3 linked regions of the Homo sapiens genome follow. The protein of the gene in region 2 purifies or fractionates together with the protein of the main gene of each other region. This does not show direct contact. Each region holds a gene or a part of one and is shown on either strand. Other genes may lie near its edges. The genes, in order: PEAK1, DQX1 and MYO5C.

Region 1 (3,752 bases), on a different chromosome or scaffold from region 2:
CCTTTCCAAGGAGTCATAAGACTCAATGTCCAGTCCTTTGAGTTCATAGCTGATGGAAGAACCAGCACTGCTGGCATCCCAGTTGGGGTCGATATCATAGGTGGGATTAGCCATGACACAAAGACTACTTTCCATGGATTTTTGGAGGTCCTTGGAGATTGGCTCTGTATTGGCTCTTATGATCATCTTCTTTGGCAGTGGGGGTGGTGTAGGTTGGGAAGCATTGGGTGCTTCTTGGTCTGTTTTCCCTCCAAAGGCGATGGCATCGTCCACAGCTCCCTTGGGCTGTCGTGGCTGCTTGGGAGGTATCATGGCTGCTCTAGATTGCCCTGTATTGTTTTTAAAGCAATAAAAAGAAAAGAGTAAGTAAAGTTTTCAATCTAATTTTATAACTGAAACTTGAGCAGAAATGAGTGAGGTAGCCATGGGAATGTAAGAATAAGTCAACTCTTTAGTTCAAAATGGGAAAAGAGAACAACCAAAGAACAAATACCTAAACATTGAAGTATCCAAGCCTTGGTGGGAACGACAAATATGCATAATGTCTTGGCCTTGTCTAGGAACAGGGCACTGGTTTGGGTGATGAGTTTTGTTTTCAAAAAGGAAACCAGATTCTCCAGTCCCACCCTTCAGAGTGCTATATATTCACCACACCAGAATATTAAGGGATGACAGACACTCGAATATACTTGGATTGTGACAGAGTAGAGATGATAGCATTGTGGATAAAGAAAATACTTGGGAGCTTTATTACAAACAGAATTGAAACTAGCAATGTGACCATTAGACAGGGGCTCAGAAGATACTATTCTGTTCTTTTTATTCCAAAGTTACATTGTATTATATATAGCATTTGTCATGCATATAACATTTTCCAACACATGAATACAATTTCAAAAGCCATGCTATTTATTTTACTATAGAGATGGATTCTGACATTGCTTAAACTGGTCTACGTAAAAGATTCCTGTGATTGTGGTAAGGGGAACAGTGTATATGAGCAGTCAACTTCTGTTCTGAACACGAATTCCCAAACTCTTATGTGATTCTCTTTTATTTTGGTGGGCATATACATTGTGATTTGAGAGATACTATCTTTCAACATCTTTTATAAGCCCTAGTTAGAGAACCATTCATCTGTGCTTAGTTTCCAGCATTTATGATTAGAAAAAGATAAAACACATGTGTGTTTGAATATACCTTCAGGGCTTATTGTATAACAGAGAGAACACATTATTTTTTAAAGACAGAAAAATATACATGAAACTTCTATAAAGGCTATTAAAAATTAGTTCTGTTATTAAAATGAGGCCTCTACTCAAGATCTCAGAGTTATAAGGCTCTGTTATGGGTTGAATTATATCCCCCAAAAAGGTATGTTGAAGTGCTAACCCCTGGTACCTATGAATGTGACCTGTTGGAAGTCTGTAGATTTAATAGTTAAGATGAGGTCATTAGGACGGGCCCTAATCCAATATGGCTGATGTCCTTATAAGAAGAAAAAACACCATGTAAAGACAGGGACAGAGAGGGAAAACACTACATGACATTGGAGGCAGAGTCTGGAGTGACACAGGTGCAGACTAAGGAATACCAAGCATTGATGGCCACTACCAGATGCCAGACAAAGGCAAGAAAGGAATCTACCCACTGTCTCAGAGGGAACACAGTCCTGCTGACACCTTGATTTCAGACTCCTAGCCTCCATAACTGTGAGAGAATATATTTGTGTTGTTCTAAGCCACCCATTTGTGGTACTTTTTTACAGCAGTCCTAGGAAACTCATACATTCTCCTACTATTGTTCATATAGAGTAGAAGGTGCTGGATGGTGCTGAGGATGACAATGAATAGGGGTGGTGGTTTGTTTTGTTAAAATCACGTCCTTGCAGCATGTCAACGGTAAGCACCAATATAATCTGGGATTGTAATAGTAAGTGTTGCTTATGACAGGGATAAGTTCTGAGAGAGTTAGGCAATCTCATAATTACGCAAAAATCATAGAGTGTACTTACACGAACCTAGATGGTACAGCCTACTACACACCTAGGCCATATGGTATAGCCCACTGCTTATAGGCTACAAACCTGTACAACATGGTACTGTACTGAATACTGTGGGCAATTATAACACAATGTTAATTACTTGATATGGTTTGGCTGTGTCCCCACCCAAATCTCATCTTGAATTCCCACATGTTGTGGGAGGGACCCAGTGGGAGGTAACTGAGTCAGCACAGGTCTTTCCCGTACTGTTCTCATGATAGAGAATAAGTCTCATGAGATCTGAGGGTTTTAAAAAGAGGAGTTCCCCTGCACACGTTCTCTCTCTTTGCCTGCTGCCATCCACATACGATGTGACTTGCTCCTCCTTGCTCTCTGCCATGATTGTGAGGCCTCCCCAGCCATGTGGAACTGTTAAGTCCAATAAATCTCTTTCTTTTGTAAATTGCCTGGTCTCGTGTATGTCTTTATCAGCAGTGTGAAAATGGACTAATACAGTAAATTGGTACCAGTAGAGTGGGGTGTTGCTGAAAAGATACCCGAAAATGTGGAAGCAACTTTGGAACTAGGTAGCAGGCAGAGGTTAGAACAGTGTGGAGGGCTCAGAAGAAGACAGGGAAATGTGGAAAAGTTTGCAGCTTCCTGGAGACTTGTTGAATGGCTTTGACAAAAGTGCTGATAGTGATATGAACAATAAGGTCCAGGCTGAGGTGGTCTCAGATGGAGATAAGGAACTCGTTGTGAACTGGAGCAAAGGTAACTCTTGTTATGTTTTAGCAAAGAGACTGGAGCAATTTGGCCCTGCCCTAGAGATTTGTGGAACTTTGAACTTGAGAGAGAAGACTTAGGGTATCTGGCAGAAGAATTTTCTAAGCAGCAAAGCATTCAAGAGGTGACCTAGGTGCTGTTAAAGGCATTCAGTTTTATAAGGGAAGCAGAGCATAAAAGTTCAGAAAATTTGGTTTGGCGCAGTGGCTCATGCCTGTAATCCCAGCACTTTGAGAGGCTGAGGCAGGTGGATCACTTGAGGTCAGGAGTTTGAGACCAGCCTGGCCAACATGGTGAAACCCTGTCTCTACTAAAAATACAAAAATTAGCCAGGTGTGGTGGCAGACACCTGTAGTCCCAGCTACTCAGGAGGGTGAGCCAGGAGAATCGCTTGAACCTCGGAGGTGGAGGTTGCAGTGAGCCGGGATCATGCCACTGTACTCCAGTATTGGTGACAGAGTGAGACCCCGTCTCCAAAAAAATAAATAAATAAAAATAAAAATAAAATAAAAATCAGAAAATTTGCAGCCTGTCAATGTGATAGAAAATAAAATACCATTTTTCTGAAGAGAAATTCAAGCTGGTTGCAGAAATTTGCAGAAACTTGCATAAGTAACGAGGAGCTGAAGGTTAATCCCCAAGACAATGGGAAATATTTCTCCAGGGCATGTCAACGGTCTTCACGGCAGACCCTCCCATCAGAGGCCCGAAGGCCTAGGAGAAAAAAGTAGTTTCGTGGGCCAGGCCCAGGGTCCCCTTGCTGTGTGCAGCCTAGGGACTTGGTGCCCTGTATCTTAACCACTCCAGCCATGGCTGAAAGGGGCCACTGTAGAGCTCAGGCTGTGGCTTCAGAGGGTGCAAGCCCCAAGCCTTGGCAGCTTCCATGTGGCGTTGAGCCTGTGAGTGCACAGAGGTCAAGAACTGGGGTTTGGGAACCTCTGCCTAGGTTTCAGAGGATGTATGAAAACACCTGGATGCTGAG
Region 2 (3,752 bases):
GAAAGTATCCTGACACCAGTGCTTTCTGAAGGTCTCTGCGATTCTGCTCAGAGCCAAAGGCTGGTAGGGACAAGGGAAGTTCAATTCGTTGCATGAGTTCTAGGAGTTCTCCCCGAAGTTTATGGGCTTGGCACAATGCTGCCCAATTCAGACCTCGAGCCTGGCACCAAGCCTCATCTGCTCCACCTAGGAGAGGAAAGGGACCAGCTAAACTAAAGTCCTTGAGACCCCTGAAATAACCCAACCCTTAGCCAAAGGGCCTCCTCTTTCTGAGCATAGAGATCTGTCAGCTGGCTGCATAAAATTTCCCCTCTTTGGAAAATCTGGGATTCTATAAAAGGATGCAGAACTCACTTTGTATAAAGGCTTCATACACCTGGATCAGAGAACTGTGGTCACCATCCGTGTGTTCCAGGGCCCGACGCAGGGCAGCTTCTTCTGCACTGAGTGGAGGACGGGTAAACCCAGGGGCAGCTGGAGGCAGAAGAGTGGAAGGTAGAATCTGCCATTTGGGAAATGGGAAGGGATAGTAGTACAGGTAGAATGCTGAAAAGGCAGAAGTGTCCCTTTGGGAACTTTATTCAAAAGACATAGATAACTTCTAGGTGCTATGCACTTTATTAAACATTGAGGATAAGTAAATGAAATACAGTCTCTGCCATCAAGGAGCTTCAAGTCTGGTGGGAGAGACCAACAGGTAAGCAGACTTGATAAGCATGATAGGTGTTTGTATATGGTACTGTGGAAACAAAGAGGAGGATACCTAATCCAGGCTTTAGGTGGTGAGGATGTGAGTGATGTAAGAGAAAACGATGAGGACCCTTGGGCTAGTATTTGAAATTTGAGTAGGAATTAGCCGAGTGGAGACGGGGCAGGGAGTATGTTTTAGACTGTGGCAACAGCATGGCACGTAAGTTAATAATATAGCATATTTGGGGAACTGCAAGCCATCTGGTATGGGTGGAGGGAATGAAATGACGTGGCAGAATGGCAGGAGATAAAGCTGGAGAGGTAGGTATAGGTAAGGTCATGAGAGGCTGGAGTACTGAGGAAAGGAACTGTCTTTAAGGTAAAGAGTAGCTGTAGAGGAAGAGTTGTGGGGTTTTTTTTGTTGTTGTTGTTTGTTTATTTGAGACAGGGTCTCACTCTCTTGCCCAGGCTGGAGTGAAGTGGCGTGATCATGGCCCGTTGCAGCCTCAACCTCCCAGGCTTAAATGATCCTCCTACCTCAGTCTCTTCAGTAGCTGAGACTACAGGCATATGCCACCACACCTGGCTAATTTTTTGTTTTTGTAGAGACAGGGTCTCTCCTATGTTGCCCAGGCTGGTCTCAAACTCCTGACCTCATGTGATCCTCCCATCTCAGCCTCCCAAAGTGCTGAGATTACAGGCACAAGCCACCACGCCTGGCTGAAGAAGAGTTTTTAAGTAAGAGAGTCCATGTGTCTGAAAAAGTTCACATTACTAGTTAGGAGGCTACTGAGGAAAACCAGCTGAGCAATGAGGAGGACCTACCATTGGCAGATCCTACCTACCGTATTCACTGGAAGTGAATATGGAGAAGGACAGATGAATATATTTATATATATATTTACATTTAGGAGATAAAAGTGAAATAACCTGGAGAAAGACTGGTCTAGAGTGATGGTAGCAGAGCAGCAGAGATAATAGTATTATCTGAATCTAAGACTCTAGAGAGAGGAAAAGATTTTGTGGTGATGGTGGTGAGGGAGTGGTTTAATAGAGCATTTGAGTTCAGTTCTGAGCTGAGGTACTGTTAACTATTCTGGTAGAAATGTCCATCAGGGGCTGGGTGCCGAGGCTCAGGCCTGTAATCCCAGCAGTTTGGGAGGCTGAGGTGGATGGATCACCTGAGGTCAGGACTTTGAGACCAGCTTGGCCAACATGGCAAAAACCCGTCTCTACTAAAAATACAAGAATCAGCTGGGCATGGTGGTGCGTGCCTGTAGTCCCAGCTACTTGGGAGGCTGAGGCATGAGAATTGCTTGAACCAGGCAGACAGAGGTTGCAGTGAGCTGAGATCATGCCATTGCACTCCAGCCTGGGTGACAGAGTGAGACTTTGTCTGAAAAAAAAAAAAAAGAAAAAGAAAAAAAGAAACGTTCATCAGGAGTTGGAGTATGCTCTCTCTCTCTCCCTCTCTTTCCCTCTCCCTCTCTCCCCCTCTCCCCCTCTTTCCCTCTCCCTCTCTCCCCCTCTTTCCCTCTCCCTCTCTCCCCCTCTCCCCATGCGTCTCTCCCTTGCTCTCTCTCTGTCTCTCAGATTCGAAGAATGGTATTGGGTGAGAGATACACGGCACAAGGTTTGGAAATTTTAAGGCTAAAGGTAGCACTTCAAACCATGGGTGTGGATAAACTTGCTCAGAGAGTTCAGGGAATAGAAGACAAAAGAGGCAAGAATAGAACCCTGAGGACCAATTTACAATGGATAAGAAGAGGACAAAGAGCTCAAGGAAAAGATAAAGGGGATGACCAGAGACGTAGGATGAAATCCATGAGGAGCAGCGTTACAGAGGCCTAGGGAGGAGGCAGTTTCAAGGTGGAGCGGTCAGCAATCTCAAGTGTCAAAAGAAGGTCATGAATAAGGGTTCAAAAGTATCCACTGGATTAGGTACCTGGAAGGTCACTGGTGAGTTGAAAGCTGTTTCACTGGCATGGTAGACCTGAAGCTGGAGTGCAGTGGGTGAGCAATACACCAGTTAGAACAGGATAGAAATCATGCTGCATAGCTGAAGGGGAGGATAGGGTTGAGGAAGAGGGGTGTGTGAGTTTTAGCAATAACAGATTAGGAGAGATTTAAGCATGCTGAGGGCAAGAACCAGCAGAGAAAAAAGGCTAAAGAGACAAGAGGGAGATGGGTGACTAAGCCTGGTTCTTTAGGCATTGTGAGGGGTGGCAACTGGAGCAGAGAGGAAAGGGCTAGCCTCAGGAGCACCAAAACCCAAGAGGAAGGGCTGAAGTGGTTTCAAGAGCTATGGATTTACAGCAGCGATTTATACCTGTGAGCATGGCAGCCAGGGTGAGCATCTCGTCCACACAGTCAAACTCGCATGAGGCCAGCAGGGCTTTGGCCAGCTCAGGGGCCAGAGGGAATTCTGATAGTATGACACCCAGATCTGACAGGTCCCCATCATCATCCAGGGCTGCCAGATAGTCTAAATCTTCCAGGGCTTGCATCAGTGCTTCTGGAGCTGGTGAGGAAACAGGGCTTACAGGATATGAAGTTTCAGAACTGGGTGGTCAGATGGCAGTGCTTGGGCAGGAGAGGTGCTCACCAGGCTGGTCCAGGAAGTGACACTCCCCTGGCTCTGCAATCTGTCTCCTTTTTAGTAGTAACACCAGGGAGCTCAGATTCTCCTCACACACCCTGGGTTGTGGCAATGGTGGAGCTTCTAGTTCTAAGAAGGACTTAGGATACAGGCAGAGGCAGGATCCTGAGGGGAAAAAGACCTGGGAAAGAAGACCACTGTAGATTTCTCAGGGCTTGCATGTTGGTGACTCTTGGGTTTTTTATTTCAGTGAGGGCAAAGGCTCTTACCTGGTGGGAACCCTCTTGCTCGCAATCGTCTTGCCTCTGCCTGACACTTGCTGATTGGCCTCAACACTTGGAATTCTGCTCGGATCCTAGGATTGTAAACCTGTTGCCCGTCCCCCAACCAAGGCCAAGACAGATCAGAGTGGGCCATTTCTGTCTTTACTACCCCACCGCTATCTCTCTCTCTCACTCACACT
Region 3 (3,752 bases), on a different chromosome or scaffold from region 2:
ATAATATAAATAATTTTGTATATAAATAAATGCAAAATTAAATTTACCATGATCCTCTCTTTGTGGCATTTATCATTATTGATCCATGCCAGGCCTCTCTTTATATTTTTTGATCCCCTTTTTGAAATCTCCGATTCCATTTCTCTCCCTCATAGGTATCCACTCTTGCATATTTAATGAATGACTTTGTAATTTATCCTCCTTACCTCTATTCACACATACTTGTACCCATGAACAATATTCAGTATTGCAGTTTTTGTGAGTTTTTAAATATTAAAGACTTGGGCTAGACATCTATTCAACATTGTTTTTTATTTCTGAGTCAAGTAGATCATGTCTATTCCTACTAACAGCTGTAGAGTTTTACATGTATATACTATTTCTTTTTTTATTTTTCTCTGCTGTCTGCCATGTATATACTATTTTATTTATTCCCCTATTGATATTTAGATGCTTCCAACTCTTTGATAAATAACTATGTTGTGATGAACATCTACTTAACTGTCTCTTTGGGTGACTGTGAGAATTTTTCTGCCTACATTTATTTTCATAACTATTCTCAAATTGCTCTCCAGGATGGCAGTATATTCCCACCAGTTATGTAAGCAAAAAAAGTTTTTATTTTTTTTATTTATTTTTTTTTTTTTTTTGAGACGGAGTCTCGCTCTGTCGCCCAGGCTGGAGTGCAGTGGCGCAATCTCGGCTCACTGCAGGCTCCGCCCCCTGGGGTTCACGCCATTCTCCTGCCTCAGCCTCCCGAGTAGCTGGGACTACAGGCGCCCGCCACCTCGCCCGGCTAATTTTTTGTATTTTTAGTAGAGACGGGGTTTCACCGTGTTAGCCAGGATGGTCTCGATCTCCTGACCTCGTGATCCGCCCGCCTCGGCCTCCCAAAGTGCTGGGATTACAGGCGTGAGCCACCGCGCCCGGCCAAGTTTTTATTTTCTCACATCCTAGGCAGTATCTGAGATTGTCTAACCTAAATGTTTTTGCCAATATGATGGGTAAAAAGCAATATCTCATTGTTGTTTTCATTTGTATTTATCTGATTACTGCTAAAGTTGACATCTCCTTGTATGCTAACAAGCCATTTAAGTGTCCCCATCTGTGAATTGCCTATTAATTTTTGTCAGTTTTAAAAATTGGATTTCTTTTCTTTAACCGATTAACAATTCTTCTATATGGAAACTACTATAACCCAACATTTTAAAGATATTATCCCTCTTTTATTCCTAATAATTTCCCGGTTTTAAGTTTTAATCGTGAATCCATCTGGAGCTTATTTTTGGATGCAGTGTTTGCCACGGATCTGCTTTTATTGTTTTTCCATATAACGGGCCCATCTAATAAATATTATTTTATTTCCCTATCTGGTCCTTAAGGCTACCGTATAATGTAGGGCCCTGCTGGGGGGCTCCAGCATGTTCCATTACTCACGTATCCGTTCTCACGCAAGTGTCACACTGTTTTAATGACTACTGCTTTGTTATGTCCCTAAATATATGGCAGGACAAATCTCTCCTCTTTGAGAATTGTCTTAGTTATACAGGGCTTTTATTCTATATGAAATATAGAATCATTGTACAATTCTCCAAAAGTTCTGTAGGATTCTGACGCCAATATATTAGGCATATATATTGATTTGGGTAGAAGTGACACCTTGACCATATTAAATATTCCCAGCCAGGAAAATGGCATGTCTCCCGTTTACCTGGGCCTTCTTTTAAGCTCTTTAAGAGAATTTTAAACATTTTCTCCACAAAGGCCAAGGGCATTTTTGCGAGTGTAATCTCTGGATACTTTATATTTTCACTAATATTGTAAATATCTTGTATTGCATAGACAATGCTCATATAAAGGACCATTACTTATTTTTGTATTTGATTTTGAATACGATGACCTTGCTGGACTCTTAACACATTTCTTTGTGTTCAGTACGTTGATTCCCTTGGGTCTTCCATTTAAATGGTCGTATCCTCTGCTCTTTGAGGAGCTAACACTCGGGCCGGGCAGCCTCCGGATGCATCTGTTCCTGCCTGGCAGCGCGCCCCGGGCCCCAACCTTCTCCACCCGCGCTCCCGCCAGGTGCAGCCGCCCGGCCCCGGCCAATGGCAGCGCCGACTAGCCGGGCCAAGCTTGGAGGGACCAATCCCGCCGCTGCCCCCTCCCCTCGCCGCCAACTCGGGAACGGGAACAGGAGGCCGTTGGAAAACTTTGGGCAAGATGGCCCGGCGGTGATTTCCGCGGCGGTCTCTCCTGCGCCCGGCCTCTGCGGCGCAGGCCCAGCCCCCGAGCCTCGCACGTTCGGCAGCCCCGGCCTGGCCCCGGCCCCTCCTGCCCATGGCGGTGGCCGAGCTGTACACGCAGGTAGGAGGGTCCGCTGGGCTCCTGGGAGCGCTGTGGGGGAGCCGGCCCTGCTAACGCTGACTCGACCTGGCGCCCGGGCCACACCTGCCACACCTGCGCACCTGACACGGCAGGGCGGGCGGGCGCGCGCTGGGGGCCGCGGAGGCGCCGCGGAGGGGCCACGGGGACCGGGGACACGAGCGAGCGTCGCCCCTCCAGGGCCCCGGCGTGCTCCGTCCCTGCCCGCGGGTAAGCCCCCTCCTGGCTCCGCTGCGCCTGGGTGCCCTGTGGGTGGGAAGACCCTGTGGGAGGGGCCGCCCCCTCCGCCGCTCCGGCCTCGGGGCCTAGAATCCCCAGTGCCCAGGGGTCGCGCGTGCGTCCCCATCTCCCGGGACTGGAGCGCCTCGGTCCCTTCCTACCACACCACGGGTGGAATCAGAGTTGCCCATGCGGACGTAGGAAGCTGAGACGCCGGCCAGTCTCCTGGCCCCTCCTGGGACCCCCTTGAACGAGCTGGCATAGAAGCTTATGGCCGCAGTGTTCGGGCTGCTTTCTAGAATTCTGTGTCTTCAAAGTGCGTGAACGTGCATGTAGGCTCATCAGAAGCTGAAGCAGCCTGGGTCACAGGCTTGAGGGCACTGCAGTGGCACCAAGCGCTTGGGGAGCCCAGGGGCCACGAGGTGCAGTCGTAGGCTCTTTGCCTAACATCTGTACTGTTAGCAACAGTACAAACACCACAGTTTCTAAAGCGCCTTTCATATACCCTGACTCTGGGAAACACTAGAGCATTCCTCAGAAGCTTCCTTTCTGCTGGCTGGGGCTCCACCTCTTACCTCGGAAGGGCAGCGTTCCCACATATGTCCCAAACCCTCTGAGATGGGCTTGGGTAATTATTTGGATAAAGAGTGTGACAGTGTTAGCACTTTTGAAAAAAAAAATCCATTTGAATAGCCATAAAGCCTGATCCTCCTATACACCAGTTGGGGAAATCTAGAGACCTCAGTATTCAGACGAGTGGAACTAGAATCCATCCATTTCCCCGGACACATGCTCTAGCTTTCTACTTTAAAAGATGCTTTTGCTGTAGATAGAAAAGATAGTTATTTAAAAAATCATGTTTCAATGGTTTAAGCAAACGTTTTTCTTCTACTTTGATTACTTAGTAACAGTCCGGACACAAAGCAACCGAACTGTAGTTTCTCCTCTATTGCATCTCCATTAACTGGAGTTCTAAATGGACAGTGTTTGAATTGCCCTAGTTTTGTTCTAGAATATTTTCACCAGTGAGACTGTGAGCCCTCAGACAGCCAACAGCGCTTCTTCAGCCTTCAGTTTACTGGAAGTGAAAGAAAAGTCTTGGACTAGTCTTCGACGATACTTTGGAGGACAGAGAAAAATGCTGCTGC

Evidence for each region.
Region 1: the proteins of DQX1 (region 2) and PEAK1 purify together in Homo sapiens (affinity purification with mass spectrometry; 2 studies listed by BioGRID and IntAct, with this or other methods). This does not show direct contact.
Region 3: the proteins of DQX1 (region 2) and MYO5C purify together in Homo sapiens (affinity purification with mass spectrometry; 2 studies listed by BioGRID and IntAct, with this or other methods). This does not show direct contact.

Annotation. Positions count from the first base shown.
Region 1 is NC_000015.10:77,133,422-77,137,173, forward strand, and holds part of PEAK1 (inactive tyrosine-protein kinase PEAK1), read right to left. Parts: intron 330-3,752; coding exon 1-329. UniProt on the Homo sapiens protein: Probable catalytically inactive kinase. Scaffolding protein that regulates the cytoskeleton to control cell spreading and migration by modulating focal adhesion dynamics. Acts as a scaffold for mediating EGFR signaling.
Region 2 is NC_000002.12:74,519,561-74,523,312, forward strand, and holds part of DQX1 (ATP-dependent RNA helicase homolog DQX1), read right to left. Parts: coding exon 3,750-3,752; intron 3,659-3,749; coding exon 3,559-3,658; intron 3,471-3,558; coding exon of another isoform or gene 3,455-3,470; coding exon 3,296-3,454; intron 3,212-3,295; coding exon 3,020-3,211; intron 475-3,019; coding exon 355-474; intron 187-354; coding exon 1-186. UniProt on the Homo sapiens protein: Might be involved in RNA metabolism; it is missing helicase motif III and may not have helicase activity.
Region 3 is NC_000015.10:52,294,225-52,297,976, reverse strand, and holds the start of MYO5C (unconventional myosin-Vc), read left to right. Parts: upstream 1-2,172; 5' UTR 2,173-2,340; coding exon 2,341-2,367; intron 2,368-2,765; exon of another isoform or gene 2,766-3,093; intron 3,094-3,752. UniProt on the Homo sapiens protein: May be involved in transferrin trafficking. Likely to power actin-based membrane trafficking in many physiologically crucial tissues.